Homo sapiens: one gene and its partners. The protein of the gene in region 2 interacts with the protein of the main gene of each other region in a pairwise test. Each region holds a gene or a part of one and is shown on either strand. Other genes may lie near its edges. The genes, in order: MET, PLXNB1, MST1R and MECOM.

Region 1 (5,353 bases), on a different chromosome or scaffold from region 2:
ATTCTAGAGATGTAAAGATGACAGGTTGTTCTCCTTATGGGAGAGAGTTGGATTGAACTTTCTGGGGAAATGCATCTTTTGAGTGGGAGAGAGTTTGGCCGTGAGCGGGGGTTGAATTATCTCCCAGTAAAGGATCAGTGTCCATTGTATTTTGTAGGCATTATTTTAAATTGGGTTCTTTTAAAATTAGATTACCCCCAATGTGTCACACAATTCTTAGATGGCTGAAATTATCACCTTTGAATTCCCTTACCATTACAAGAATATACATGGAGATAACCTGAAGGTAATTTCTCTGGTAACTGGGGGTAAAAGGGTGGGCACCTGTGTAGATAAAGAGTAGTTTTGATGGGGCAAGAAGGCCTCTCTCTCCAACCCACACCTAGGTATCTGTGCGCCAATGGTGTGGCTGCTGCTCCATTTTTGTGTCTTCTAGTCTAAGGACACACCTTGCTGGAGAAGAGCACCATGCTAAAACAGGAACCAGATGCTCTAGCAGTTGAAAGATCGTCAGAAAAATCCAGGTAATCAGCAACTTAGACCAAACCCTTGGAAAGACAGAGACTTCCTGAGATTCGGGGATGCATGCTGTTTTACTACTTCCTCAGCATTCACTTGACTAAGGCTCTCCTACATGGATGAGCTCTATGCAGCCAGGTGAAATCCATCTTAGGCTTCCTCTATCATTATGCAAATGCAGGTAATCAAGCATGACTGGCAATAACCACTATCAGTATACAAGATGTTGCATCACTTTACTTTAATTGCATGATTTATCAGAACAACTATTAACATACGAAGTACCATTCAGTTCAGCTGCAGGTATAGGCAGTGACAAGTATCTAATTCTTAGAAGAATCACTTACTCCCACAATCTGTCCAGACACATTAATCTAAGGACAAGTTTATAAATAGCAAACGTGATTTTCACATTGCAGTGTTCTCAAGAATGTATATACAAGTGTGTAGTCCTGTTGATGGGATGTTTCCCCGAGTTCTTTCTATTGATGCGTTCATGCTCTTGACCCTGGTAGAGACAGTTCTTTCTTTCCACAGAGCAGATTTTCTTTTGTCATCCACCATTTACAATACTCTGTGAATTAGTATTACTTATTACATTTATGAAACGGCAATATTTGGATTGTAATAGCTCTTCAGTACAATTCCTTGTGTCTTCTGGTAAGTCTCTGCACTATCAGAGAGCTTTTAGTTATAATCATTTTCCTGCAACAACAGCCAAACTCAACTATTGAGTTTCAGTGTGACACACCCTCTTTGTAGCTTGCTGGGTTAACCCTTGGCTTCAAGTCCTGATGATGTAATGAGGGTGGGGTGTATTGGCAATCAGTACATTTCCTTATCGCAATTTACAGTCATTGAAAATCATGCTGTCATTAATCCCAGTCTGACATACCTTTTCTAAAATGTTCACAGTGCAGTGTTTTTGTGGCCTAACAAAATTTTTCTCATATCATTAAAAATAAACATTTTTATAAAAAATATAACACTTTAAATGTTTACGTCGACAAAACCAGTTAGAGTAACCTACACCACATGCACTATACAGTAGCAAGCACAAAATTCCACAGAATGAAGCATCACAAAGTTCTGCTCAGGGTGGCTATTCCATCTAGGTGAAATAGCTGGGATTTTCAATTGCCTTTTTCATTTGTTTCTAAAGTATGTTTTGCTTAACATAAAACACACCCTAATGCAAAATAAAACTCCCCAAAAGTTTTGTTTCCAATTGCTTGCGAGGTGGGAACCTGCCACCGAGACAGAGGCTAATCTTTTCAATCCATCCACCCTTTCTTTGCTCTACCTATGAGCTGTGATTGGAACCAATGAACCTTTTAGTAAAATGTATCCTGCTTTACAAACATGCTGAGTTATCTTTAAAAATATTTATCAACAAATTACTTGTCTTATTTTGAGTTTTCATTTAAAAAAATACACACAAAACATCTACATGTTCACATTCATTAGATCAGAGTAGCATCATTCTCAAACAGTGGGTTTTTATATGACAACTAAATATTTCATGATGACTAAATTATTTCATACAAATTTTCTTAATGTCATCTATGTACATTACATCCTGTTCATTTATAAACATGTTTTGTGTGATGCTATTTTGAAACTTTGACTGTATTGCCTATAAATATTCTTCCAACCAAAGGAATGTCTATACAAAAATTTATAAGGGCTGGGCGCAGTGGCTCATGCCTGTAATCCTAGCACTTTGGGAGGCTGAGGTGGGTGGATTTCTTGAGTCCAGGAGTTTGAAACCAGCCTTGGCAACATGGCAAAACCCCGTCTCTACAAAAAATACAAAAATTAGCCGGGGATGGTGGTGTGCGCCTGTAGTCCCAGCTATTCGGGAGGCTTGAGCCTGGGAGGTGGAGGTTGCAGTGAGCTATGATCACACCACTGCACTACAGCCCTGGCAACAGAGTGAGATCCTGTCTCAAAAAACAAACAAACATTTAAAAGGGAATGTTTACCTAATGGGTGAATGACACCATCAGTAATGAAAAATGTTATTGACCATACAACACACAAAAGTGTTTTGAAACACTAGAATTCTAAATGAGTGGCCTGTTCTGGGGCTGCCGCTCCTGTCCTGAGCATTACTATCTCTTCTGAGTTTTCTGTGATCAAGAAGCCCTCAATATTTCCTGCTTCAATTTCCCATATGAAATCAAGTGGTACCTGATTTTTAAAAAATTCAACCCAGAATTCAAGTTTTGGACTCCAATATGACAGGAGTGTTGTCACGGCTGCAGGCCATTGGTCCGTGGCCTGTGGGACCAAGCCTCTGGTTCTGATGCTCTGTCAGATAAGAAATTCCTTAGAATCCAGTAATTTAAATAACAATACAAGTCCTATAATAGTGCAATTTTGGCAAGAGCAAAGAATATCGATGGCCTTTTAAAGGTCAGGCAGTGAAAAAACCATTGGACAAAGTGTGGACTGTTGCTTTGACATAGTACTAGCACTATGATGTCTCCCAGAAGGAGGCTGGTCGTGTGTCCACCTCATCATCAGCGTTATCTTCTGATGACAACAGAGAAGGATACGGAGCGACACATTTTACGTTCACATAAGTAGCGTTCACATGGACATAGTGCTCCCCAATGAAAGTAGAGAAGATCGCTGATATCCGGGACACCAGTTCAGAAAAGGATGGGCGCATTTCGGCTTTAGGGTGCCAGCATTTTAGCATTACTTCATATCTGTTCCAAAAAGAAAGACATGCTGTAAGAGACCCTTTGAAGGCAGGCATTTCTGTAAAAGTAAAGAACGTAAGAGGTACAGAAAGACTACTTACAAGGGGTCTGGGCAGTATTCGGGTTGTAGGAGTCTTCTCCCTTGCAACAAGTAAACAGTTATATCAAAGGTGTTTACGTCAGGATAAGGTGGGGCTCCTCTTGTCATCAGCTCCCAGAGGAGCACGCCAAAGGACCACTAGTAAAACAAGAAACAGGACAGATGAGGTGAGAGATGTGACCATACATATATGAAAGGAAATCAGTAGGTCTTGGTAACTAAACTTGGCTTTACATACTCAATACGGTTTCTGTTTTGGGCAACAATTTTCTTAAAGGCAATTATTAAGCTATACATTTCATGACTTGTTTAAACAAGTAAGGTTTAGATTATAAGTAAATGTAAAGTTTTCTAAAAGAATATCTGAAGTCTACATGATGATGAAGATTCCATCTGTAGTTGGTAGAATATCTCTTCCAAAATTCTCTCCCGCTGTGTCAAAGCACTAACATGTTTCTATCCTTTTCTTTTCCAATAGCTTCACTACAATTTTACATTACTTGTAAAAGAAGAAGAAAGCCTCCCAAAATTTAAATTTGTGTGGTTTCAAACTGAACATAAATACTCTTTAAGAAATGTAACCACATTGAAAGGTTACTATTAAATGGGAAGGTCTAAATCAACATAAGTAAAAATACATATTAAAAATCAGAAATAAAAAAAACTGCAAGGCAACAAGTTTCTCTATTGAAAATTAATTTCAATAAAACTGTCACATGAAGATGTGAAAGTACTAGATTCATATAAAATAGCCGTATCAGTACTATATAGGAAGATCACAGGGACACGGAGAGGTTAAGTGACTTGCTAAAATTCCCCAATACATCTGAGTCCACACTGGGATAAACATTTAAGAGTTCCTGACCCTTAGGTCTTGTTTGGTCTACTGAACTTCAATAAACATGCAATTTCTTGATTTAAAACACTGTGCTCAGGATAGACCAGGTCATACATATTATCTCCCCCTGGACATGTGCCCATGCAAGAATGACACGAGGAGAGTCAGCATGGGCAGAGGCCGCCCCTGTGGACAGGACCCAGGGGGGCAGTTCTGGCCCAGCAACACTTCCAGGCCACTCTAAGAGTAGGAAGCATAAGGAGGAAGAAATGAAGGAAGCTTGGAGCAGAAGGAAAATCCACACCAGACAGCTGGAGTAGGAAGACATAAAACTGAGAGGCAAGTGTAGCTTGCAGTACCCAGCAAGAAGGAGAATAAAGCCTGCCTTTGAACGCTGCGACTGAAAGAAAGAAATGAGGTAGATGCTGTAATTGCTGATACAAATTACCATTAATGACTTCTTTGCCCAAGTGCAAGAACCCTTGATGGCTGCTGACTGCCTTGATCCCAACAGAAAACTCAAACCCCTTGCCAGGAGGGAGCTACAGAACTTTGCTGTCTAATTCAGCTTTGCAAAGTAGAAGTTTTCAAAGTCTGAAAATCTTAACAATCAACAATCACTTCTGACAACATCATCGTGTTAACTTTCAAGTCCCAGAATATGCATTAACATTTAAAATCAATTTAACAAGTATCAATTGACCCTTGATCACATACGAGTAGGTTACTGTTCAAGTTACTAGATAGGTCCCAGGGCTGAATGAACAGGGTTAAGAGAATTGAGCAGATAACTGCCACACAGGACAATAAGATAATAGCTGTAATATAGAGCAGTAATATCAAAGAGGTACAAAGGTTGCCAAAAGTCAAAGAGATAATAGTAGGGTACTGAGAAAGGCTGCAGGAAGAGAGTGACAGTAAGGTGGGTCTTGAGGAACAGGGAGACTTTGTTTTATAGGTGCAGGTAATATGAGGGCAGAGGGAGAGTTTTGGGTGGAGGGGGTGGGGCCAGGAGTAACAGTACACATGTGTTCTTTCTTTCCTTTTTTATTTTTTGAGATGGAGTTTCGCTCTTTTGCCCAGGCTGGAGTGAAGTGGTGCAATCTTGGTGTACTGCAACCTCTTCCTCCCGGGTTCAAGCGATTCTCCTGCCTCAGCCTCCTGAGTAGCTGGGATTATAGGCGC
Region 2 (7,671 bases):
AGCAGGTTAGAGAGCTGCCCCAGCCCTTGCTCCACAGTGGGCCGTCTGCTCTCAGGCACACCCAGGTCCCGGTGCAAGGGCGACTCGCGGTGCCCAGGGAAGAAGATCCTCTCCGCATACACCTTGTAGTCGAGGAAGGGGATGCCGCTGCCCAGGAGGTCACTGGTGAGATCGGTCATCTCAGTCATGAGGTCTGTTAAGCAGAAGAGGCCAGGTTAAGCACCTGTTAAGCACCAATCCCGTGTGATGGGAGTGGGTTTGGGCAGAGTTCTGGAGGGCGGGGCCCATTCTCTCAGCCACACCTGTGAATTCCTTCTTGCAGCGGTCCCGCACACTGCTCTCCAGATTCTCCAGCTGGATCTGAACCTTCTTATAGTCCCTCAGGGCCTGCTTGCTCTTCCTCCTGCTCAGCCCCAGGGTCAGGAGAGGATGGCCAGATGAGTCCTACTCGCCCAGGCCTGCCTGACAATCCCCAGGCACACCCCGGCCTCATCCAGCACAGTCCAATGCAGCCATGCCAGCCAAGCTCAAGCCTAGCCCAGTACGATTCAGCCTGTCCCGTCCCAAGCAAGTCACACACACCCATGCCCCGTCTAGCCCAGCACAGTTTAGCCTAGAGATCAGCCAACCACAACCAGGCCAAATCCATCCCACAACCTATTTTTATAAAGATTTGTTAGAACACAGCCACTTTCATGTGTTTCCATGTCGTCCCTGGCTGCCTTTGTGCCACAGTGGCAAAGCTGAGTTGTTGAACAGAGACCACTTGGCCTGCAAAGCGAAAATATTTACTCTCTGGCCATTTACAGAGAATGTTTCCTGACTCCTGGCCCGGTCTGTCCCTTCCCAGTCCAGCCAGATCCCACGACCTGCCCCAGCCCAGCCACATCTGGCTGCACCCACCTGTACATGAGGACAATGATGATGACACCCAGAGCCAGAAGAGAGGTGCCCACCCCCAAGCCCACCTGGGCTGCCACAGGAAAAGCCCCAGGGCTCTCGCCGTCATACTGCACGTGACCCAGGGAGAAGCGCAAGTTCCCCATCTGCACCTGTGTCAGGAGCCACCTGTGAGCAAGGGTTTGGCCCAGGTCAATGCCCAGCCCGGCCAGGGACCTGCCCACTGACCGTGAACTCAGGCAAAGAGTCAGGTGCCTCTCGGAGGGCATGGTGCCGTGGCAGGGGCTGCTCCACGGGGGGCTCGCAGTACAGGTGGTGCCGCGTCAGCGTCTTCACCACACAGGGGCCATCCCCTATCATAGCCACCACCTCCTCCTTGGACATTGCAAGGTCCAGGTTCTCCCCCTGGAACAGAGGGTCACCGATCAGTCACTCAGGACCCTTCCCTCAGATCCTGTCCTCCCCAAATGTGGGAAGGACCCTGAGACCCAGCCGCAGCAGCAAAGCTGACAGCCTCTCAGCACCCTTCCCGAGTGCAGGCCAGTCACACGGTGTCCTCCAAGCTGCTCCTCATCACCCTTTGTTGCCCTTTCCTATCTTTCTTCTCCAGAACGAAAAATCTGGAGAACATAAAGCTGCCTCCCAAATCCTGCCCAGCTACCTAACAAAGCTGGAGCCCCCAATCTGTGTCTGATGACTCACCAGGGGGGTGATGATGCTGTATCAACCTGTGGTCTGCCCGCATGCCCATCTGCTGCCCACTGTGTATGTCCAAGACACATGCCTAGCGCATGTCCATGTGAGCCAGGCTGCCAACGGGGGTCAGCCCGATGGCCTATGTGGACCACACCACCCAGCTACTGCACAGGCCGAACATACAAATGCAGTCATTCCAGAGCCTGCCATGGAGTGCATCAGGACCCGGGCCACCAGCCAAGCAGTCCAGCTCGTGCCAGATGCTAGGCTAGGCACCCCCCACCAGCCCCCTCTGCCCCCACCACAGCAAGGATGAGGAGCCATGTCCATCCACCGGCCCTTGCTCTACTGTCTCGGCCTCTCCGCCACACACAGCAGTGCTGTCCAGCCAAGGGAAGGGTCTCGGGGCCCTGCCAGGTCCAAGTAGGAGCTGTACCTCCACGGAGAACACACTCCCAGGCTTGTGCCGGAATGGCATGGTGGGGTCCTCAGGGTTGAGTGGCTGCAGGGTGGGGTCGGCCTCATAGGAGAAAGGTGTGGGGTTCAGTGTTGCAAAGTCAAAGACCAGGTTGTCAAGGATAAATTCCACCCGGACCCAGGGGTCCTCAGGCAGGCCTGGGAGGGCAGGTGTGCGGCACGTGATGAGCTGGGAGGAGTTGACATGGCACGGCTCCTCAAACTGGAAGGAAGACAGGCAGGTTGACGAGGGGCCAAGCAAAGATGGGAAGAGCCTCCTCTGGCACCTGCTCTGGCTGTCCCCAGGGTGTGGTATGGGGCAAGGGGAGAGTGTGGGGGTACCCAAGGGTGTCCTACTTGCTGGCTACTGCAGGAGGGTCCAAGGGAACATGCCGTCTCCGGGACCACGCGACGCCTCCGTCCAAGCCCCTGGCTGGGCTGCAGCATTCTCGAGACCACGGTCACCCGGATTCTTGGCGTCTGTACCACGTCCAGATTCTGGCCACGGACGCATATCTCACGTCCTCCACTGAAACAGACCGTGAGCTTACGTAACGTAAGATGGCTTATGTTACCTGGACCTAAAGCACAGCCCAGTCCCGGCTAGGTCAGCTCAGCCCCAGCCCCAAACCACACGACCCCTTGCCCCTACTAGCAGCATGGGATTCTCAGTGCCTCAACATAAAGCCCTACAAACCCCCACATAGTGGAGCTGCAAAGACCTCCCTGCCACCTGCCATGCAGCCACACCCCTGGCCCAACACCTGAGGAAGCTCTTGGTGGGGCCAGCAGAGGTGATGTTGGGGTCCAAGGTATACTTGAACTGTCCGCGTTGAAGCCTCCGCTCCGTGGCCCCAAACCACACAGCCACAGGGAGCGTGGCAGGCGTGGGGCGTGGGCTGGTCTCACACCGCAGTTGTTCTGACTGCTGCTCCGGCAGCCTGGGAGGGGAGGTGGGAATGAATGCAGGGGCGCAGGCAGGGAAAACTTGGACCACTCAGGCCCCAACTGGCTTCCCTCAAGCGCTGACTGCAGTCTCCACCAGGTGTCCCTGGAGGTGCACTCCCACCACAGCTGGCTAGGGAGGGTCTGGCCACTCTCTGAAGGAGCAGACTGGCCCTCTTCCCCTTTCTGCTCTCCCCAGGATCTCAGACCCCTCCATCTTTCCCCTGGAGCAGATGGATTTTTGCAGGATGAGGAAGTGGCCCTCACAAGTGACAAGGCTGGTCTCCAACCACCACTCGGATGTCCTCCAGCCGCCCAGTCAGGAGCTTGGAGCCATTCAGGGTGAGACGGGTGCCCCCAGCTCTGGGGCCGCGGGCCGGGAAGATGGAATGGACCTTCGGATCCTGTGGGACAGACAGGGAGAGAGATGAGCATCAGACCAGACACATGGAGGCAGGGACAGCCTGAGAGACAGGCTGGCCCAGGACTGGGAGCCCCACCAAGGAATAACCAGATGGGTTGAGAGGAGCCACCAGAGAGGTTGGCCCGCTGGCAGCTGGGGGTGGCTCAGCAGTCAGGTACCTGGTAGGCAAAGTCGTGTTCTGAGACACCACGTCCTCTTCCCGGCACCTCCACCGCTGTGGCGCCGGCCACCTCCTCCCCACTGGCCCCGGTGATGCACACGAGGCTGTAGGCACAGGGCAGGCTAGGGGGTGCCAGGCTGCATCAAGGGCCCCTCAAGCTTACCTGGCAGCCCCTCTCCCTGCCCTACTGTCAGGTGGTCTTCCCCTTCCCATGCTCCATAAGATTGACAGAGACCCTCTCTCACTTTGGAGGGAATTCTTTATGACACATCAGAAGGCCTTGGTATCTGAGAATTAATATTTGTGGCTTCAATCATTTAAGTTCAACCCCAGGGGCCCCCAATAAGGAAGAATTTATCTGTGGCATAAATTTACAAAGGGGCCCTGTCAGCCTGGTTGTGGGGCGAGCTGCTGAGCAAGTGAGTGGGCACAGCTAGCCGCCCATGTCCTCCGCCACGTCACATGCACAGTACCCACTCAAAGCATGGTAGAAACTTGATTTATTCAGGAAAAAGAGTCCCTGAAAGCCTCTAGTCAGACAGGGAAATACAGGTGAAGGGAAAGTGAACCATCTAAGAAAATGCTGGTTCTTAGCCAGAAAATAGAAGCTTGGGCAAATTAAACTTCCAGAGTGTTAAGCCTGCAGTGGCTCAACTCAGTGACATTGTCACAGTTGTTGCAAACACTAGGAAGACACAAGTGACGTGTGAGCCACCCAGGGGAGGCTCCAGACAGAATATATGCTAATTGCTTCATAAATCACAGCAGTCTTATGGTCTGGAACACTAACAGTCTAGATAGTCACCGTAAGTTCTCGGTCATAACACATTCAGGGGACACTCCGTGCTCCAGGAGAGTGGTTCCTTGTTTCAAATACAGATTTGGGGGCCCCACCGTGGGCCTCCTGAATCCAGATGTTTGTGTTGGTTTGGGACAGGATCTGCAGGTTACCCTGATATTCAGCCACGTTTGGGCCCTGCTGCTTATGGACATCTCCTTAGGAATGTCCTGCGTGTGTACCTTTGGGGCCTGCAACCGCTGGCCAGGTTACCATAACCCAGGAGCCCCAGGAAGGCAGCAGGGGTCCCTAGAGACGACAGTGGAGCCTGGCCCTCGGCCAGTGTGCCTTTCTGAGGTGTGCCTTCCAAGTCTACCTTCCTGAAGAGCCTGGCAGCCCAGGACAATGCCTGGGGAAGAGTGAGCTGGTGAGAAGGCCAGCCCCTGAGCTTATCTGTCTGATCTGAGGGTCCTGCTGCCACAGCTATTAATATATCCACAGTCCCTCAGAAGACCAGGTGAGCAGAGCAGGAAGCAGAGCCACGAGTCAGTTCTGGGCAGTGACGGGCCCAGGAAGGATTCCCCAGCAGCCCAGGCCAGGAACCTACAGGTGTGGTGGGTGCTCAGGGTCTTCAGTGGCAACGCTGGCACTCGGGCATTGTGGCCAGGATCAAGGAACAGGGAGAGAGGGGGGCAGATGAGCGGTGGGTGGGAGGCCCCAAGCAGCAACGCCAACCGCGGAGGCCCCAGGCTGCGCCGTGCTCCTGCTGGGTGCAGCCAGCTTACCTGCTGGAGACCTCGTACTCCTGGGCATCCACAGCACAGGGCACTCCAGCCACCGTGACCATGCCCAGCACATCCTGCACATGCTGGCCCAGGTTGGAGCCCCTGATGGTGACACGGGTGCCTCCGTCTACAGGCCCAGTCAGTGGCTCCACCTGTTCCAGGACAAGGACTGCTCACCTCTACTCAACTGGAAAGGCAGCCCCAACCTCCCACCTTTGGGCCCCCACACCCTCCCTCTAAGGGCAGCACTGAGGAAGGGATGGCCAGCCTTTCAACAAACCGAGTGGATGAGGGGCGCTGGGCACTGGGTGGCCACAGCCTCAGCCTCACCACAGGCCTCCCGGGTCACACAACGTGGACGCTCCCCCTCACACCACACACAGCCATACTGGGGCATGGCAGTTTGGCAGCGGCTGCAGTCTCCATGTCCCACGGAACAGTCATACAGTACCACTGGGGGTGGCAGAGACACACGTGAGAGGCAGGCCTGGGAGAGCCCTGCTACCACCGCCAGCCCAGCAGCCCGCAGGTGGCTCACCATGCAGCCCCTCAGCACTGTCCACACGCAGACGGCCGGCCCGACGCAGAAACAGCCCCACACGGAGCTCCGGCTGCAGAGCCTCATAGCTGAGCTGGAGAAATGGGAGTGGGTTCAGAGTCAAGCACTGGGGGAAGTGTCAGGCCTGGGGAGGGGTTAGTCAGAGAAAGGACTAAAACGACCAGTTAGGAGCATAGGGTCAGAGGGACCCCATGGGGCCACAAGTTGGAGGGCAGAGCCAGAAATGGAGTATGGGGACCCCATGGGGTCTCAAGTTAGAGTTCAGAGCTGGGATGCAAGGACTCCACGGGGCACATGGTCAGAGGTCAGAAATGGGTGTGGAGACTCCCTCAGGGCGACACGGTCAGAGCGTGGCTCTGGAAAGTGTGGTGCAGCCAGCTACAGTTGGCAGCCAGCCTGTGGCCAGTGCAGTGCACCCGTGCCCACCCAGGCGCTCATGGTGTGCACCTGGTGCTGCTGGCAGGTGACATGGCACTGGGTATCTGGAGGTGGCTCACACTCGACCCGGGCCTCAACCACCACCTCGAGGCCCTCCAGCTCCATCACACACTCATTGTCTCCTGGGCCATCCTGAGGGCAGAGAACACAGCTGTTGGGCAGCTTCAGGAGCTGGGCCCAGGGAGTCCTGCAGGTCACCCAACAGATCCCCCAGCACAGCTTCTGGGTTGGAGTTGAGCCCTCGGACTCTGCCCTCCTCCTGCTCCCCAGGGCTTGTGCAGAGTTTCTCAACAGCTAAGGAGGCTGCAAGGACAGCGGCAGGCAGGACACACTGACCTGGAAAAGGTGCAGGTTCCTGCCTAGCAGCCGGATTTCCCGCTCCACATGGACCGGCATCAACGTGGAGCCCTGAACGCTCTCCACACAGGGGCAGGAGCTTGCCCCCAAGGTCGCCTCTTCCTGCAGGCACCAAGGGCAAGGCAGTCTATGGAGCCCACCCTGCCCAGCTCAGCCCTCTGCCTTGCCAGATTCCAGAGGCAAGGCCGGTGTGGGGCTGCAGACTCCACCCTGCCCCTCACCTCCTCCCAGTGCAGAATCACAAGGCAAGCTAGGGGTAGCATCTTCCCCACATCCCCTCCCCTGAGGCCTCCTTCCTGGGCTGGGCCTCACCAGCTCCCAGAGCCCGGGGGTGTCATACTGGTAGTCGAGGCTGGACGGGAGGATGAGGGGGGCGGGAGGGCCCTCAAGCTCTGCTGAGTCTCCATCACCTGAGAGGAGGGTGGAAGTGGAGAAGGCGGGTGCGTCACCCCCCGTCCACTCGTCCGCCTCGGGCAGCTCGCCGCCTTCTCTCGTGAGCCAGTCCAGGGCGGGCTTCACGGAGCCCATGGCCCCTGGGAAAGTGGTGGCAGGAACAGTGGCAGGGGGCAGGTCCAGGGGCACTGTGGGATGAAGAGCCTCGGGGCCAGGGTCTGCAGGGGGCACTGCTGCTACCTCTGAGGGTGACAGCGGGGAGGCCAAGAGGTCCTCAGGTGTGGCTGAGGGTCTGAAGTCAGTGGGGGCAGGGACAGCGGTTCCAGGTCCATTTTGGGGGCTGGGAGGGGAGGGCTCCTCATGGAGAGGCGACCCTGTGGAGCCAGGGGAAGATATGGAGCCAGAACCTGCCCATGGCCCCCAGGGGCTGAGCAGGGAAGGACTAGCCCCAGGTGAGATGTCCGAAGCTGTGGCTGTGGAGGGAGCCCCAGGCTCCACGGGAAGGGTGTCAGGAGCAGGGGTGGCCAGGGCTTTGGGGGCTGTGGGTGGGGAGGGGCTGGGTCCACCTCTTGCAGGAGGGTCTGGGGAGACAAGCGGGCTCTGAAGGGGGAGGCAGAGGAAGACAGGAAGGGCCACTCAGCAGGCAGGCGCGGGACAGGAGGCAGGCAGGCACAGTGTATGTTAAGAGGAAAGGAGACCAAGGAAAAGAGAAATAAAAACAGCCCATTAATTCTCCACTGGAGAAAACTGCGGGGGAAGGCTCCAGGGGTGTCTGTGCCG
Region 3 (8,563 bases), 1.5 Mb from region 2:
CGGGCCCCAACGAGAACCTCCTGGCCTGGGTAAGGCAGCCCTGGGATGGGCTGGGCTTTATGGAGGTCCTAGGTATGGGCCATGAGGGGCCTCTAACCTAGATGACGACCCTTTGCCCCTTCTCCAGGTGACAGGCGCCTTTGAGCTCTACATGTGTTACAGCCCCCTGGGGACCAAGGCGTCAGCCGTCAGTGCCATCCATAAGCTGATGCGCTGGATCCGCAAAGAGGAAGACCGCCTCTTCATTCTCACGCCCCTCACCTATTGATGGGAATGTGTGCGGGCTCAGCCTTCCTGGACACACTAGGTGTGGGAAGCCATAGGAGCCTCCAGATGGGGGCTGGCCTCTCTTGCCCAGCCAGCGGGCAGGGACTGTGGGTTGGTGAATGCATTAAAGTGCTTTGGGGAAGACACTTGTCAAGCTCTGTCACTTGTCCCTTCGCCCATCCACCCTCACTCACATACAGACACTGGATCCTCCTCCGTAGCTCCTGCACAGGGACACAGGCACATTTGAGCCCCTCTCCTCCCTCCCTTGCACCAGCATGAGGCCACACACATTCTCAGCTGGATCTTGGGCTGGGGCCGTTTTGGTTTAGTTGAAGTCCTACCATATATAAAAAGTTCTCAGGCACCATACTGCCCTACCCTACCCCCACCCCCATATTCAGTCTGAGCTTCTGCTGTCTGCCTCTCTTATCACTCCTGGGAGGGGCCCCCTGCTGCATGCCACAAAAGACTACTCAACCACCTTCAGAGCCCTCGCTGTGGCTCTGTTTAATGGGTTGCTGTAGTTCAGCAGAAGCTGAGTTGAGTAAGATACAGATGGTCAAAATGGGGGGAGTCTGAGCCCTGGTACTGGATGGAGCCCCTGGTGAGGCAACCCAGTCTTCAGCTGAAATTCAGAATCCAGTCTCCCTTTAGCTGCAGGCCTCTGAGGAAACTGTCCCTGCTCAGGCCTTCCCATGAAGGGCTGTATGCCTCAGTTCTCCTACCTCAGCCAGTGCATTCCTCCAAATGGTCCTCAAGAGTGAGCTGAGGGTCTGAGAGAAGGCCCAGTTGACCCTCTAAGGCAGAAGTGGGCCTGCCATAATAAGAGCTAATACTGCTACGTGCACTCGGCCCTCCTTAGTCACCCTAGTCCCTGGCATGGCATAGGCAGACCTGCATGGGGCACCATGGACATCCAGGAGGCTCGGCAGTGAAAGCCCAGCCCCATTTACTCTACCACAGGACCCAGGGCACAATGCAGAGAGCTTCCACTTTGCTGCCGGGGGATCTTCTAGTTCTGGCCCCAGGGAACACAAGGCCTAGGAAGTACTTATTGGAGAAAACTGTCCTCTGAATGTGGTCTTCAGACTGTCAGAGAGAATCACCCTCATGCAGTTTCTGAGAGTTGAGCCAATATTTTCTGCTACTAAAATCAAGCCATATTGAAGAATGAGCCTGTGTGGGTGACATGGACCCAGGGTACACTGGAACAGTTGTATTTATTGTCCCAGAAAATGGCAGCACAGCCCCTGCCCTTGGCCCCACTGTGGCTCACATTGGAATGGGCATGGCAGCAGGCTACCAGCCCAGATTCCAAAGCCTCCGGGGAGCAGCCATAGGCTTGGTGGGTGCTGTTCACCCTGCACACATGCCCTGGGTCTCTTTTATGCCTGTTTTCTGCTTTTGTTCCTCCCCTGCTCCTAGTAAGAACACCAAACCACTGCCTCTGGGGCCTGGGTGATGCCAAGCCAGCTGTCCCTGATTGTTACTGGCATTCTGGTCAACAGTGAGCCCCTAAGTGCCTCTTTTGGTTGCCCTGACTCTTGTAGGTTTCTCAGCTTCTGTGTAGTTCAGCATATATTCTGGGGAGATCATAGTTGGATAAATGTGTATACCTAGGACTATAGGCACCTAGGAGTGTGGGGTGTACCTGCTTGGAGATCAGGGGTGGGAAGACAGACAAATAGGGAAGGTGTTCGTAGTGGAAGAGCCAGCATGTGCAAAGGGAAGGACCTGGTAAGAACCTAGTACAGGCCGGGCATGGTGGCTCACGCCTGTAATCCCAACACTTTGGGAAGCCAAGGATTGTATATCACTGGAAGTCAGGAGTTCCAGACCAGCCTGGCCAACATGGTGAAACCCTGTCTCTACTAAAAATACGAAAATTAGCTGAGTATGGTGGCGTGCGCCTGTAGTCCCAGCTACTCAGGAGGCTGAGGCAGGAGAATCGCTTGAACCCAGGAGGCAGAGGTTGTAGTGAGCCGAGACTGCGCCACTGCACTCTAGCCTGGGCGACACAGTGAGACTCCGTCTCAAAAAAAAAAAAAAAAAAAGAACCTAATATAACTTGTTTGCAGTGAAGCTGGAGTGGTCCACACAAGGGCTGGGGTTCTCAAACTCCAGGTAACCTGCAGTGTGATGTGGTCATATTACAGTTAGAGAGACTCCCTTGCTACTGCTAAGGTGATCTTGGGATTAGAGAAAGAGGTTAGACCTAGTTCTCTAGAACAGTGTTCAGAGGGGACTGAGAGCTCAAGGAGGGAAAAGTGGCTAGTATTCCTTCAAGGCGTCAGGTGCTAGGGCAGTCGAGCAGGTTCTTAGCCAGCTATGTTAGCTTGGGGGTGCCCTTGTACTTGGCACTTAAGAGTCCCATTAGCTGACCTCCCCCACACACCTTGACTGCCCCCTCCTATAGAGGCGGCAGATGGCGAGAGGGGGAAGGGGTGCTCCTGTGTACCCCTGCTGTTGAGAACCAAGGCTGCCTTACAGGGGACCTCAGCCTGGGGACAGCCATTAGCGCGGCCACACGGTGGCAGCGGAGAACTAACGGATGGTTGCCGCAACACCACCCCCAAAAAGGGGTGGGTGGGGTGATCTAAGAGGGCTTGTGAAGTCTTCTCCCAACCACCAGAGATCCCTCTGAAAGTCTGGAGGTGGGATTTGGGTCACCAGAACCCCTGTCTGTGCGCCAGGCTGAGAATGTTTCATTTTAGTTTTGCCTTGCCTATCTTTAGATGTGTTGACTGTGGAATGCAGGAACCACGCCACGGTTTTCTCCGGGTGTTTATTCATTTCCTGGCCAATTCTGCTTTGGAAAAGGAGTGTCTTTTATGTCACCTCAGGGCACAGTATCAACCCTGCACTGGGTGTGGCCGCCCCCACTTCCATTTCCTCTTTCAGTCTTCAGGTGCTCATGGAGCTCCAGGCTGGAAGGAGGGGGAGTCCTGCACTGGGGATGGAGGAAGTGAAGTATCCAGAGTAAACTGTGCTGGGGTGAGTGTAGCACTGGGTCTGTGAGACCCAGGAGAGGGGACTGGCAAAGTCTGGATCAAAAAGGCTTCCTGGAGGAGGTGCCATTTAGGTGGCAAAAGGAGAAAAGGGAAAGAGTGCTCCTGGAAGGAGGAACAGCACTTACAAAGGTCAGGTTAGGAAGGGGATGCAGGCACAGAAGTATGAACTGAAAGGGGAGTGAGGAGATATAGCTCCCCAAGCCAGGCTAAATCCTGTTGGGCTGAGGGCTCCTCTCTCCCCCAGCCTCCTTATCTACAGCCTTGGGGCCCATAGTTCACAGCCCAGACCCACCCTGTGGACCTTCCCTGTCTTCTAGGGTCCAGGCCTATCTAACTGAGGGGTCTGTCAGGCTAAGGTTGTCCCCCAGGGGCCTCAGTCTAGTGTTGGGGGACCAGTTACCAAGGGGCAGCTGCTGAGATCCAAGTGTGGGACTAGGCTCCCCCACCCCCACTCCTCATAAACAGAAGAGAGAACTCTGGGAAATCACCTAGTCGGAACTACGTTTTCTTTTTCTTTTTTTGGAGATGGAGTCTCGCTCTGTCACCCAGGCTGGAGTGCAGTGGCACAATCTCAGCTCACTGCAACCTCCACCCCCTAAATTCAAGCTATTCTCCTGCCTCAGCCTCCCTAGTAGCTGGGATTACAGGCACCCACCACCACGCCCGGCTAATTTTTGTTTTTAGTGGAGATAGTTTCACCATGTTGGCCAGATCTGTCTGTTCACCATGTTGGTCTTGAACTCCTGACCTCAAGCGATCCACCCGCCTCGGCCTCCCAAAGTGCTGGGATTACAGGCGTGAGCCACCACGCCCGGTCACATATTTTATTTTAAAAACATTTTTAGCAGTTTTTTTGTTTTGTTGAGTTTTGTTATGTTGCCCAGGCTGGTCTTGAACTCCTAACCTCAAGCAATCCTCCTGCCTTGGCCCCTCAAAGGAGTGCTAGGATTACAGGCATGAGCCACGGTGCCCAGCCCAGAACTACATTCTCATTGAAGAGAATAAGATCCAGCAAGGCCTACAGAGCATGTTGGAAGTGTCCTGAGAGCCAAAGCCCATGATTCCTCCATATCAGGGGGGCACTGGGTAGAGCCAGGAAGGAAGGGGGAGTCCCCAAGGCCCATACTGTGGACCCCATTATACAGCTTCCATATACTGAGGCTGCAGAGGAGGTATGGGCCTCCACTTACGTGCCTCTCTGACTCTGAGGTCCAGTCAGCAAGGCCAGATCCCATCCTAAGACCCTTATGGCCCTGGGAGAGCAGGGCATAACACACCTTCCTCTGACACCATCTTGTCGCTGATAGCTCAGGAGAAGCACATGGAAGAATGGTCCCGGCCGGGCGCGGTGGCTTACGCCTGTAATCCCAACAGTTTGGGAGGCTGAGGCGGGCGGATCACCTGAGGTCAGGAGTTTGAGACCAGCCTGGCCAACACTGTGAATCCTGTCTCTACTAAAAATACAAAATTAGCCGGGTGTGGTGGTGCGCGCCTGTAATCCCAGCTATTCAGGAGGTTGAGACAGGAGGAGGTTGAGGCTGGAGAATCGCTTGAACCTGGGAGGCGGAGTTTGCAGTGAGCCGAGATCGCGCCACTGCAATCCAGCTTGGGCCACAGAGCAAGACTCCTTCTCAAAAAAAAAAAAGGACAGTCCTTTCCCACAAAGGGTGGCGCCCCATAACATCTCTTGTAAGTGCCCCACATCTCCCCTCTGGTCTTCCACACAATCCTGGTCTCTGTTCTCCACATGGTGGGCCCCCAGGCCACCTCTGGGCACCAGCCACTGAGGGTGTTGCTACTAAGTGCAAACTAGTTCCACCGCAAGCAAAGAGCCCAGTGTCCTGCCCCCCTTCTCGCTGCGAACCAGTCGGTAGTGGGGGGATGGGATGGGACGGCTCAGACTGGCTCACCTCTCTCCAGGCCACACCATGCACATCCACCCACAGGCCGCTGAGAAAAAGGCGCCAAGACGCCAGGTGAAGGTACAGGAGCCAGGCCTCCAAGGGCCGGAAGAGTCGGATGGGCGGAGGGCCTGGGCTAGGCCAAGCCTTCCTCGCGGCCCCGCCCCCACGGCCCGACTCCGCCCGCCCAGCCCGGCGCCCTCGGGTCGGCTGAGCGCTAAGCGCCAGTGTACAGCGGCGGCTGGGGCGGCAGGTGAGGCGGCTGGGGCGTTGCTGTCGTGCGTCCGCAGGCGTCAGGTGCTCAGACCCGAGGGCCGGGAAGGGATTTGGGTTTCACAGGAACCTGGGGCGGGGGTCCGCTATCTTGGGGCTGTCGGGACCGCTGCTTAAATTTGGCCCAGTCCAGACCTCGAGTCGGGCCCCCAGCCAGGCCCACGCCCAGGTCCAGGCCCAGGCCGGTAGGGATCCTCTAGGGTCCCAGCTCGCCTCGATGGAGCTCCTCCCGCCGCTGCCTCAGTCCTTCCTGTTGCTGCTGCTGTTGCCTGCCAAGCCCGCGGCGGGCGAGGACTGGCAGTGCCCGCGCACCCCCTACGCGGCCTCTCGCGACTTTGACGTGAAGTACGTGGTGCCCAGCTTCTCCGCCGGAGGCCTGGTACAGGCCATGGTGACCTACGAGGGCGACAGAAATGAGAGTGCTGTGTTTGTAGCCATACGCAATCGCCTGCATGTGCTTGGGCCTGACCTGAAGTCTGTCCAGAGCCTGGCCACGGGCCCTGCTGGAGACCCTGGCTGCCAGACGTGTGCAGCCTGTGGCCCAGGACCCCACGGCCCTCCCGGTGACACAGACACAAAGGTGCTGGTGCTGGATCCCGCGCTGCCTGCGCTGGTCAGTTGTGGCTCCAGCCTGCAGGGCCGCTGCTTCCTGCATGACCTAGAGCCCCAAGGGACAGCCGTGCATCTGGCAGCGCCAGCCTGCCTCTTCTCAGCCCACCATAACCGGCCCGATGACTGCCCCGACTGTGTGGCCAGCCCATTGGGCACCCGTGTAACTGTGGTTGAGCAAGGCCAGGCCTCCTATTTCTACGTGGCATCCTCACTGGACGCAGCCGTGGCTGCCAGCTTCAGCCCACGCTCAGTGTCTATCAGGCGTCTCAAGGCTGACGCCTCGGGATTCGCACCGGGCTTTGTGGCGTTGTCAGTGCTGCCCAAGCATCTTGTCTCCTACAGTATTGAATACGTGCACAGCTTCCACACGGGAGCCTTCGTATACTTCCTGACTGTACAGCCGGCCAGCGTGACAGATGATCCTAGTGCCCTGCACACACGCCTGGCACGGCTTAGCGCCACTGAGCCAGAGTTGGGTGACTATCGGGAGCTGGTCCTCGACTGCAGATTTGCTCCAAAACGCAGGCGCCGGGGGGCCCCAGAAGGCGGACAGCCCTACCCTGTGCTGCGGGTGGCCCACTCCGCTCCAGTGGGTGCCCAACTTGCCACTGAGCTGAGCATCGCCGAGGGCCAGGAAGTACTATTTGGGGTCTTTGTGACTGGCAAGGATGGTGGTCCTGGCGTGGGCCCCAACTCTGTCGTCTGTGCCTTCCCCATTGACCTGCTGGACACACTAATTGATGAGGGTGTGGAGCGCTGTTGTGAATCCCCAGTCCATCCAGGCCTCCGGCGAGGCCTCGACTTCTTCCAGTCGCCCAGTTTTTGCCCCAACCCGGTAAGCTGAAAGAAGGGGCCCTTACTTGTGAGCTGCATGCACATGGCTGAACACAGGCTGCTTCCCTTCCATCACTGAGGGGATCTGGGGGCGCGGTGGGGGGGCAGGCGGAAAGAAGCATTCTCTCTCACCCAGTTCCTAAGTGCTGGGGTGGTGTGAGAAACCAGCCAGACAAAGGCTACACTGGAGGCTTAGCTCCCAGGCTGGCCCTTGTGGCTGCCTCATCTTGCTCTTTCCCCTACCTGCCCATCATGGCCTCTGGTTTTTTAGGTAGTTTCCCTGGCTATGTGAGGATAGGGTTACATAACCGTGTCTCTGTTAGCATAGCTCCTGAATGCTGGGTAGAATGATGGGCATTCCCTCCTACTTGTCCACCACCCATATCCTCAGGGACACACGCAGAAAAATAGCACTCCCCCCTCCCCTCCCCCACCCCCGCCACCACCACCACCACCACGCACAAATACACAGGGAGATGCTCACAGATTCACAGACTCACAGCTGCTTGCCAACAGTTTCACTTTCCCTTGTTTTGCTCTGCTTTCCAAAGGGGGTGGGACGGGAGTTGTCAGAGAATCTCCCCTTCCTCCACACCCCCTCCCCCCACCCACCCCCATCCTTCTGCCAGCCACCACGTTCCAGGGAGCCTCCTGGGCCTTGGAAGTTGGGAGCTTGTTAGGGAGCCTGCATGTCCTGGGCTTCACTAACGTTTTTGCCATGATTGGGGGTGATTGGGGGAGTACCCAGAACTCATGGAATGGCAGCTTGGTTCTAGAAGGTTCTGGGAGCCTCACTCTAGTCTTGTGCAAGCAACTATAAACATCTGGGGATAAGTAAAGGCCTAGGAAGGGCTGGTTGGAATTGGTCCATCCCAGACTTTTTTTTTTAACTGTATTTGGAGCCCTACCCCAGGCAGGAAGTCTCAAAGCCTGTGCTGAACTGGGGGCTCCTTCCACAGACTCTATCTAGGTTCTCTCCAGCCATCGTGTAGGCAACAGCAGTAAGATTGGACCAAGGAATGGGACCCACAGCTACTGTTCTTAGATTCTCTAGCTATCATCCTGTGGCCCTGGGCCTGCTGTGACATTCTCGAAAGACTCCTTTCCGCTCCTATTGATGCCTCGGAGATGGGAGAACTTACACCCAATGTGAGGTTGGGGGTCTTTAGCCTCCCTCCCTCTGCTGAGTACATCTGGGTTGAGAGGCCCTAGGGTTGGGGACTCCTTGTCTGGGCCTGGGCAGGCCTGCCTGGCCCCTTCTCCTTCCCAATGGGGAGTCAGAACCTCTCCCCAGCTTGCCTAGTGGTCAGTGGGTCAGAAGACACCCAGCACGGCTGGGCAGTGCCAGGCTCCAGGAAGACTAATCTTGGTCCCTGCTCACAGGCTGGCCAGGCCCCCAGGAGGTGTGTGAATCACCCCGTGCAGTGTTTGCCCAGCAACTCTGGGCATGCAGCCACTAGGGCAGCACCCACATAGTGGTTGGCCTCAGGAGGCCTGAGGGACTCAGAGCTGGTGCCTGTCCTCCATGGGACATTGGACACTTACGTGTTTTCAGGAGCTGGGGGCCCCTACCTAAGCCTGGGAACGTAGAGCTAAGGTCCTGGGGCTAGGGACAAGCAGGCTAGGGTGTGGGCCTGACTAAGGTAGGGCTCTATTCCCCTT
Region 4 (7,671 bases), about 120 Mb from region 2:
CTTATATTTGCAGATTTTTCCAACCAAGGGCTCACCATAAATTATGACTTGGTTCTAATTAAAATGTATAGAGCCTCTGTCAGTGCTGAACAACATAGGGATGATATGGAAGTACTCAACTTAGACCATAACTGTGAACTATGGTAAAAGTAATTCACTTCTTTTAATTTCATGTTTCTTGATTAACTCAAAGATGTCCTGGTGTCATTAAAGTTGCTTTCTATTTCCAAAACACATTTCCTAGCATTTTAATAGCTTTTTTTTTTTCATGCCAATGGAAATTTCTGTACCCCACCAGGTTACTGGGTAGTCATTCTCCTGTGATTACCTTGTTCTATGCACATTAAAATTTTGTATGTTTTTTTCTCATAAAAATTAAAAAATACATTTGAAATTTCTTTAGGGATGTTTTGCTCTCAGATGTGTTGGGTGGCTTTTTTATTTTTGTTTTTAGTACAATGTCTAAAGGAATGGTTTTAGCTTGCTAGTAACTCACTGAAAGAGTGTTAGAATTTTACGCCCTAGGGAAACTCTTTAAATAGATTTAATGTAGTTAGTCAAAATCCTCCAAATTTTTGTACACAATGTGTCTTTATTTAAAGGGTGAAAATAGCACACCAGTTTTAATAATGGCTTAACCAGCATTTTATTATTCAACTCAAGTCACTCTAAATGGTATCAAAAAGGCCTTGAATATGGCCTAATAGTGCCATTCATTATTTGGTTCAACTGATACCAGTGGATACACCATGCTAAGGATATAGAGCAGAATAATTTACAGTTCCTACCCTAGAGGAGAGTACATTTTGGAAATTAGAGGAGAGTACACTTTTGGTCTTTGGGGAAAAGAAAAACAAAACAAATAAGAAAAATTTCTTCTTGAGTCATCCCGGGTCTTCTTTATTGTGCCCTTGAGTTAAGTTTCTTGATTAATCAGTACTCATTTCCTAGCAGGTTTTCACGGACCCTAGCAACCTTCAGCGGCACATTCGCTCTCAGCATGTCGGTGCCCGGGCCCATGCATGCCCGGAGTGTGGCAAAACGTTTGCCACTTCGTCGGGCCTCAAACAACACAAGCACATCCACAGCAGTGTGAAGCCCTTTATCTGTAAGTTTTCAACACTCCAGCCCTCCTTCCCACATCTGTCTCTTCCCCAAAAGGCACTGTGACCAGGAGAGTGGCTGCACATGGCCTTTAGAGGGTCACCGTGTTAGCTATTTATGGTCCAATCCAGTAGGGCTATTTATGATTACAAGTAAATCTTTTATAATCAGATCCATGGTATTTTGTCCTTGATTCCTGGGGTGTTTTCTTTCAGAAGAAATCAATAACAGGTAGAGAAAAGAAAATTCATTAGATAATCAAAGGGAAACCTCCACAGGTTGTAGGATTTAATCAGGACAATCAGATTTGTCTCATATTGTAAATGTTCATGGCTTTGTAAAGCAGCAAATAGCAGCCATCACTAAACAAGATGAAGTGATTAAAAACCTGTTCTGGATCAGAAAGAGCTGGAAGAAGCCCACCTGGGAAGTAGGCTTACGGCTCTGTGTGCATGTATGTGAGTATATGTGTGTGGAGAGAGCGAGGGGGATGAAATGCTTTTTAATCTACCCATTGTTGCCGATCACAGGCTGTCGGATCTGTAGTTCTCTGTTACTTGAAGAAAAGCAGAACATTTTCACTTAGATGCTGGACATGCTGTTTCTCTTACCCACTGCACCAAAGCAAGTTTATAGGCAGTGTGCTTTTAGGGGACATCTGATCTGACCACCTACTTAGAACATCCCTGTACAGAGCACTGTAGTAACATCCTTCAAATACAATAAAACTCAGCTCTCATTTGCTTTTTCTTCTCTCCGCCCACTCCTATTCTCTGTATTGTGCTCAAACATTTTATAAGTAAAATCAGTTGTTCTTAGTCTACCTGGGCAAAAAATCTGGGCTTCTTTTAATCCATTGCTTGGCGGGGCATATAAATACAATGACTTATTGAGTTGTGCTACAAACGTCAAGACTGATTTTGGACCCAGATACACATAGAATTGGTTGAAGCATACTCAGCACTTGGCAAGACCTCTGACTTTGGTTTGTAGTAGGTATATGAGACACTACTACAGGACCTGATGGAAAAAACTATTTTTCAGTGCCAACATGGAGATGCCAGAGACTAACTCTCCTTTGCCTCGACACAGCTTTCTTTTGTGTGTCCAAGCACCAAAATAGCTTTTCTTTCCTTTTCCAGCTTACACTAGAGTCCTGTTTTGCTCATATGCTCTTCTGTTCCCCGGGTGAAGAGGACTAGCAGATTAAAAAAGGGTGCTCTCATCTCCCTTGGGGAAGCTCTATTGAAGGTCACGGGAAATAAAGCATTCAATAGAAATTTTAGACTTCTTGTCGCAAAAAGGCATTCCTGACTCTTAAGTCTTAATGCCCTGAAAATGTACTTGGAAGTACTACAGGCATACGATATTAAATAGTTCATTTATTTCTGATTCCTCAGAAATAAATTTTGGTAAGTTTTATTATGTTTTGATGTGAGAAAAAACTAGAATAAACCACAAGGAATTCTGATCACTCATTTAATGCTTTCTCTATTATTTAAAATAAAAGTCAGAAAATATAGACTTCTGCTATCGAAGATTCTGGGATCTGGAATTTTAATTGTGTTGAAGACAAGTGTTTCACTTTAAAGTGCCATAGGGTGTCCCTTTCCAATCAGATTGCATAAAGTATTTCCCTTGAATGTATTTTCAGTAATTATTGGTAAATTTAAATAGCAGATGGCATTCTTCAAATTTAAAATCTGCCAGAGAACCATGGAGTAATTATGAATAATAGCCATGTAATTTCAGAACAAAAGAGATTAAAGATCAGGAAATGGTGTGGAGACTTGAGTGGAGGAGGTTCACCTAGGGCTGATATCTGTTTCTCACCAGAAGGCCACACACCACGATTTACCCCCACTGGTGTGTTTATGGCAACTGTCTCTTATTACAGTGTGCTGCCACGCTTGAGCCCAAAGTCACCAGTGCTAAGGTAATTACTCACTGCCTTTACAGAAACCTACAGCTTTCCCAAATAGAAACCACATGCTCTAATAGGCTGAATATATTCAAAATGCCTCTTAATTTGTTTAATAAGTAGAAAAATGCAATGTTAACTGCTGGCTAATTCCTTATTACTGAGAAAATTACAGTAGAGTATAAACTTCAACATCAATTGAACCAGTTTACCTGGAGGCCTGGTAGTTTGTGGTATGCCAGGCCAGGCCTTCAAGTGCCGAAAACAAAGCCTCTGCCTAAGAAAACATCCCAGATTCGATGTTCTTGAGCCCAGACACAGACAGCACTCAGCCATGTAACAACGGGTGCCACCAGAAAAGTCAGCTGAACTTCTGTTACTCCAATAGAGAGAAGCTCTTGATTTTTTTTTTTTAAGCCATCTGATTGTAAGAAAGAAGTGTAGAGAGCAACATTTCCTTGCCAAAAAATGACAAGTCTTTGAAAAACTTATGTCTTGGTTGAATACTCATCAAGACATTTTTTCAATGCCTTTTAAGAGGTGTTGCTTTCTTACTTTTTATAATTCCAATAATAAAATATTGTTATTGCTTGTAGCTATAAATTATTCTAATATATCTAGTAAACATCTGATGTTTCTACCTTCTCCATTATTTGATTTTAATTAGTGTATCAAACAGTTTAAATTAGATGTATATTTATGGTGTATGGTTAAATTGTATATACTTTTAAAGCTGACTCTGGTCGATATATTCTGGTAAAATAATTTGAAAAGATATCACCCACATCTTCTATTCCCATTAAAATGCATGTTACAGCCTCTGTAACGTTGTGATTCATCCCACAATTGAAGGCACCTTTAATATTACCAAACACTTTGATATATGCAACAATACACTTTAACCTTTAGTAGTAAAAGAAAGAGATATACCCTTACTTGGTACTTCCTGTTTGGATGTATGTGGGATAATCCAAGCTCTGGGTGAGTTTTGCTTGACTGAAAGTCTATAAAATCTCCTTGACATGAGTTTTTTTTTTTAATTATTATTGCTTTGACTTAGAAGCACAATCATTCTGCACTTAAAGGCAGCCATCATATGAAAGCAATAACTGTTGCATTTTGTCTTCAATTTAATTTCTTAAAATAAATTTGCTTCAACAATTACCAACAAGGTACATCTTGTTTCTGCATGTATTGAACATGCACAGAAGTGTTAAAATAAGCTCACACATAACGTGGCTCAATCCCGTAAAGTAAAATAAAAAATGTGATGCTCAGGGTACTGATACTGTAATACTGCTGGACAGTGAAGTGAGTGATTCTTACCTGGTAAAGGAGTTATTAAGGGTTACAAAGTTTGGTCTTAAAATATACTTGGCTATAGTGGCACATGTGTGAGGAGGAAGATTCTACTTTATTGACAAATTCTTAGCAAAGAGGCATATTTCACAGCTGCATCCAATGCTGTGCCCTTCTTTCTGGATTAGAGCTTTCACAGTGCTCTCCCCTACTGAGCATAGTTGGCTATAACACACAGAAGTCAAGCCTGAGATAACCAGTGTAGATATGACAACAAGTGGACATGTTTCCCAAGGACGGGGTTTTCATAAATGCAGGAAGGTTAGCACAACCACTGGTGTGAGGGGAAGTCAGAGGACGTGATCATAGTTCATGGGAACCAGCAATGCAGGATGGGCTACATTCAATTTAGTTTCCTTTGCAGGCTTAAAATAGAGCCATTGTAAATTATGTCAGTCTTTCTCAAATCATGAAAATGATTGTTAAAAAAAGTCTCAGAATACACAATGTGCATTGTTGTGTGGCTTTGATGTGTGAATGATGAGAGCATATGATATAATACCAATTAAATAATAGCAGGGCAGTCACAGGCTTTTTCCCCAAGGGGAGAGGCAATAAAGGTGAAGTTTCTGGTTGAGGATATTTTATTTTGTTTTGGTGCCTACAAAATAGAATTTTTAAGTACTCTAAAATTTGAAAGGGGTTCTTGTTGTGTTTTGTACGTAATGCATTTTAAGACTAATTTTCAACATTATATTAGTATAATAATTGTGTGGAGAATCAATGCATGATGGAATTTAACTTTTCATAAATATTTAAATACACAAATATTATGCAAAATATTGCACAAGGGGGTGACAAGATATATATATCTATATATATGAAATATTTGTGCTGCCTCAAGACATTTGTCAGGTTGGTTGCCTTGCTTTGGAATCTAGTGAAATGGGGTTTTCTGTGTTTGGAGCACCCAGATTGGTGCCTCCAATGTCTTTTACTGGCTTCCTAATTGAAATTTTGAGTAAACCAATTGTGATATTTGCTAAATTCAGAAGCAATTGACATAAAGCCTGAGATTCTTTTTTGTTGTTTGCACACAGGTGAGGTCTGCCATAAATCCTATACTCAGTTTTCAAACCTTTGCCGTCATAAGCGCATGCATGCTGATTGCAGAACCCAAATCAAGTGCAAAGACTGTGGACAAATGTTCAGCACTACGTCTTCCTTAAATAAACACAGGAGGTTTTGTGAGGGCAAGAACCATTTTGCGGCAGGTGGATTTTTTGGCCAAGGCATTTCACTTCCTGGAACCCCAGCTATGGATAAAACGTCCATGGTTAATATGAGTCATGCCAACCCGGGCCTTGCTGACTATTTTGGCGCCAATAGGCATCCTGCTGGTCTTACCTTTCCAACAGCTCCTGGATTTTCTTTTAGCTTCCCTGGTCTGTTTCCTTCCGGCTTGTACCACAGGCCTCCTTTGATACCTGCTAGTTCTCCTGTTAAAGGACTATCAAGTACTGAACAGACAAACAAAAGTCAAAGTCCCCTCATGACACATCCTCAGATACTGCCAGCTACACAGGATATTTTGAAGGCACTATCTAAACACCCATCTGTAGGGGACAATAAGCCAGTGGAGCTCCAGCCCGAGAGGTCCTCTGAAGAGAGGCCCTTTGAGAAAATCAGTGACCAGTCAGAGAGTAGTGACCTTGATGATGTCAGTACACCAAGTGGCAGTGACCTGGAAACAACCTCGGGCTCTGATCTGGAAAGTGACATTGAAAGTGATAAAGAGAAATTTAAAGAAAATGGTAAAATGTTCAAAGACAAAGTAAGCCCTCTTCAGAATCTGGCTTCAATAAATAATAAGAAAGAATACAGCAATCATTCCATTTTCTCACCATCTTTAGAGGAGCAGACTGCGGTGTCAGGAGCTGTGAATGATTCTATAAAGGCTATTGCTTCTATTGCTGAAAAATACTTTGGTTCAACAGGACTGGTGGGGCTGCAAGACAAAAAAGTTGGAGCTTTACCTTACCCTTCCATGTTTCCCCTCCCATTTTTTCCAGCATTCTCTCAATCAATGTACCCATTTCCTGATAGAGACTTGAGATCGTTACCTTTGAAAATGGAACCCCAATCACCAGGTGAAGTAAAGAAACTGCAGAAGGGCAGCTCTGAGTCCCCCTTTGATCTCACCACTAAGCGAAAGGATGAGAAGCCCTTGACTCCAGTCCCCTCCAAGCCTCCAGTGACACCTGCCACAAGCCAAGACCAGCCCCTGGATCTAAGTATGGGCAGTAGGAGTAGAGCCAGTGGGACAAAGCTGACTGAGCCTCGAAAAAACCACGTGTTTGGGGGAAAAAAAGGAAGCAACGTCGAATCAAGACCTGCTTCAGATGGTTCCTTGCAGCATGCAAGACCCACTCCTTTCTTTATGGACCCTATTTACAGGTAAGCGTGTATGGAAGATGACGAAATATGAGCAGATGTATGAAAGGCGGTATTTCCACTGTAAAGTGATGGCTTTTTAACACATCATTTTTACTATTATTATAAAACAGAGTGAAGTTGTTTGATCTAGTGAACTCATTTTTTATTCTGAAAGTTGGATCATTCTGTTTGAACTTATTTTTGGATGTTTCTGAAGTTGGGGGTTTGGAATAGGCCTACAGAATTTTTTTCCCTTGACAATAAATTTATTTTTAAACACTTTTTTTGGAGTGGAAAATATGGGAAAGTCATATTTAAAGTAAATTGTCAAGTGGCGGAAGAATGAGGATCCTGAAGGATTAATGCAAATATGCGTGGGTACTTAAATGGGTCAGGTTCTTTGGAATGGGGGGGATATCTAACAGCAAGAGTCCACTCTTTTTTGACCTACCAACACATCCTTAATAAGGGCTGGTCATATTGTTTCTAAATAAATCTCTCAGGAGCCCCCAAGTAAATGAAATATTAATCACAGAATATGTTTTGTATATAATATGAGTAGTTGGCTTAAAAAATGTCTCTGTTTAATAGCTTCATTATCCGGTTTCCTTTGATGTAGCAAAAAAATCTTGGGGTGAAACATACAAGTTTAATAAAAGGCCTTTTTGGCAATATTCAGTAATATTCACCTGACCAAAGTGATTTAGTTTTAAAATACTAGTTTTCTTTAAATGGGTATGAATAATAATATGTTTGTTACATATTTTGAATATTACAAACATTTTCACATTTACTTTCTCATTCTAATCTTGAACATTGTCAAGAGTTCATGGAACATCTGGATAATTTTTTATTGAACTTATTTAACATCGGAGTATTTTCATATTTTGCCTAATTCTCTTTCGTGAAGA

Evidence for each region.
Region 1: the proteins of PLXNB1 (region 2) and MET interact in binary tests that used the Homo sapiens proteins (3 or more experiments, as listed by UniProt).
Region 3: the proteins of PLXNB1 (region 2) and MST1R interact in binary tests that used the Homo sapiens proteins (3 or more experiments, as listed by UniProt).
Region 4: the proteins of PLXNB1 (region 2) and MECOM interact in a two-hybrid assay, tested with the Homo sapiens proteins (one study listed by BioGRID).

What each region holds. Positions count from the first base shown.
Region 1 is NC_000007.14:116,793,770-116,799,122, reverse strand, and holds the end of MET (hepatocyte growth factor receptor isoform b preproprotein), read right to left. Parts: intron 3,469-5,353; coding exon 3,332-3,468; intron 3,237-3,331; coding exon 2,999-3,236; 3' UTR 746-2,998; downstream 1-745. UniProt on the Homo sapiens protein: Receptor tyrosine kinase that transduces signals from the extracellular matrix into the cytoplasm by binding to hepatocyte growth factor/HGF ligand. Regulates many physiological processes including proliferation, scattering, morphogenesis and survival.
Region 2 is NC_000003.12:48,412,767-48,420,437, forward strand, and holds part of PLXNB1 (plexin-B1 precursor), read right to left. Parts: intron 7,492-7,671; coding exon 6,811-7,491; intron 6,601-6,810; coding exon 6,478-6,600; intron 6,274-6,477; coding exon 6,151-6,273; intron 5,777-6,150; coding exon 5,683-5,776; intron 5,598-5,682; coding exon 5,425-5,597; intron 5,297-5,424; coding exon 5,145-5,296; intron 3,686-5,144; coding exon 3,580-3,685; intron 3,402-3,579; coding exon 3,265-3,401; intron 2,994-3,264; coding exon 2,817-2,993; intron 2,582-2,816; coding exon 2,410-2,581; intron 2,276-2,409; coding exon 2,033-2,275; intron 1,306-2,032; coding exon 1,129-1,305; intron 1,053-1,128; coding exon 904-1,052; intron 772-903; coding exon of another isoform or gene 621-771; exon of another isoform or gene 404-620; coding exon 303-403; intron 194-302; coding exon 1-193. UniProt on the Homo sapiens protein: Receptor for SEMA4D. Plays a role in GABAergic synapse development. Mediates SEMA4A- and SEMA4D-dependent inhibitory synapse development. Plays a role in RHOA activation and subsequent changes of the actin cytoskeleton.
Region 3 is NC_000003.12:49,900,719-49,909,281, reverse strand, and holds the start of MST1R (macrophage-stimulating protein receptor isoform 1 preproprotein), read left to right. Parts: upstream 1-5,408; 5' UTR 5,409-5,672; coding exon 5,673-6,902; intron 6,903-8,563. Other genes in the region: MON1A (vacuolar fusion protein MON1 homolog A), read left to right, coding at 1-29, 128-268. UniProt on the Homo sapiens protein: Receptor tyrosine kinase that transduces signals from the extracellular matrix into the cytoplasm by binding to MST1 ligand. Regulates many physiological processes including cell survival, migration and differentiation.
Region 4 is NC_000003.12:169,114,493-169,122,163, reverse strand, and holds part of MECOM (histone-lysine N-methyltransferase MECOM), read left to right. Parts: intron 1-951; coding exon of another isoform or gene 952-954; coding exon 955-1,108; intron 1,109-5,424; coding exon 5,425-6,781; intron 6,782-7,671.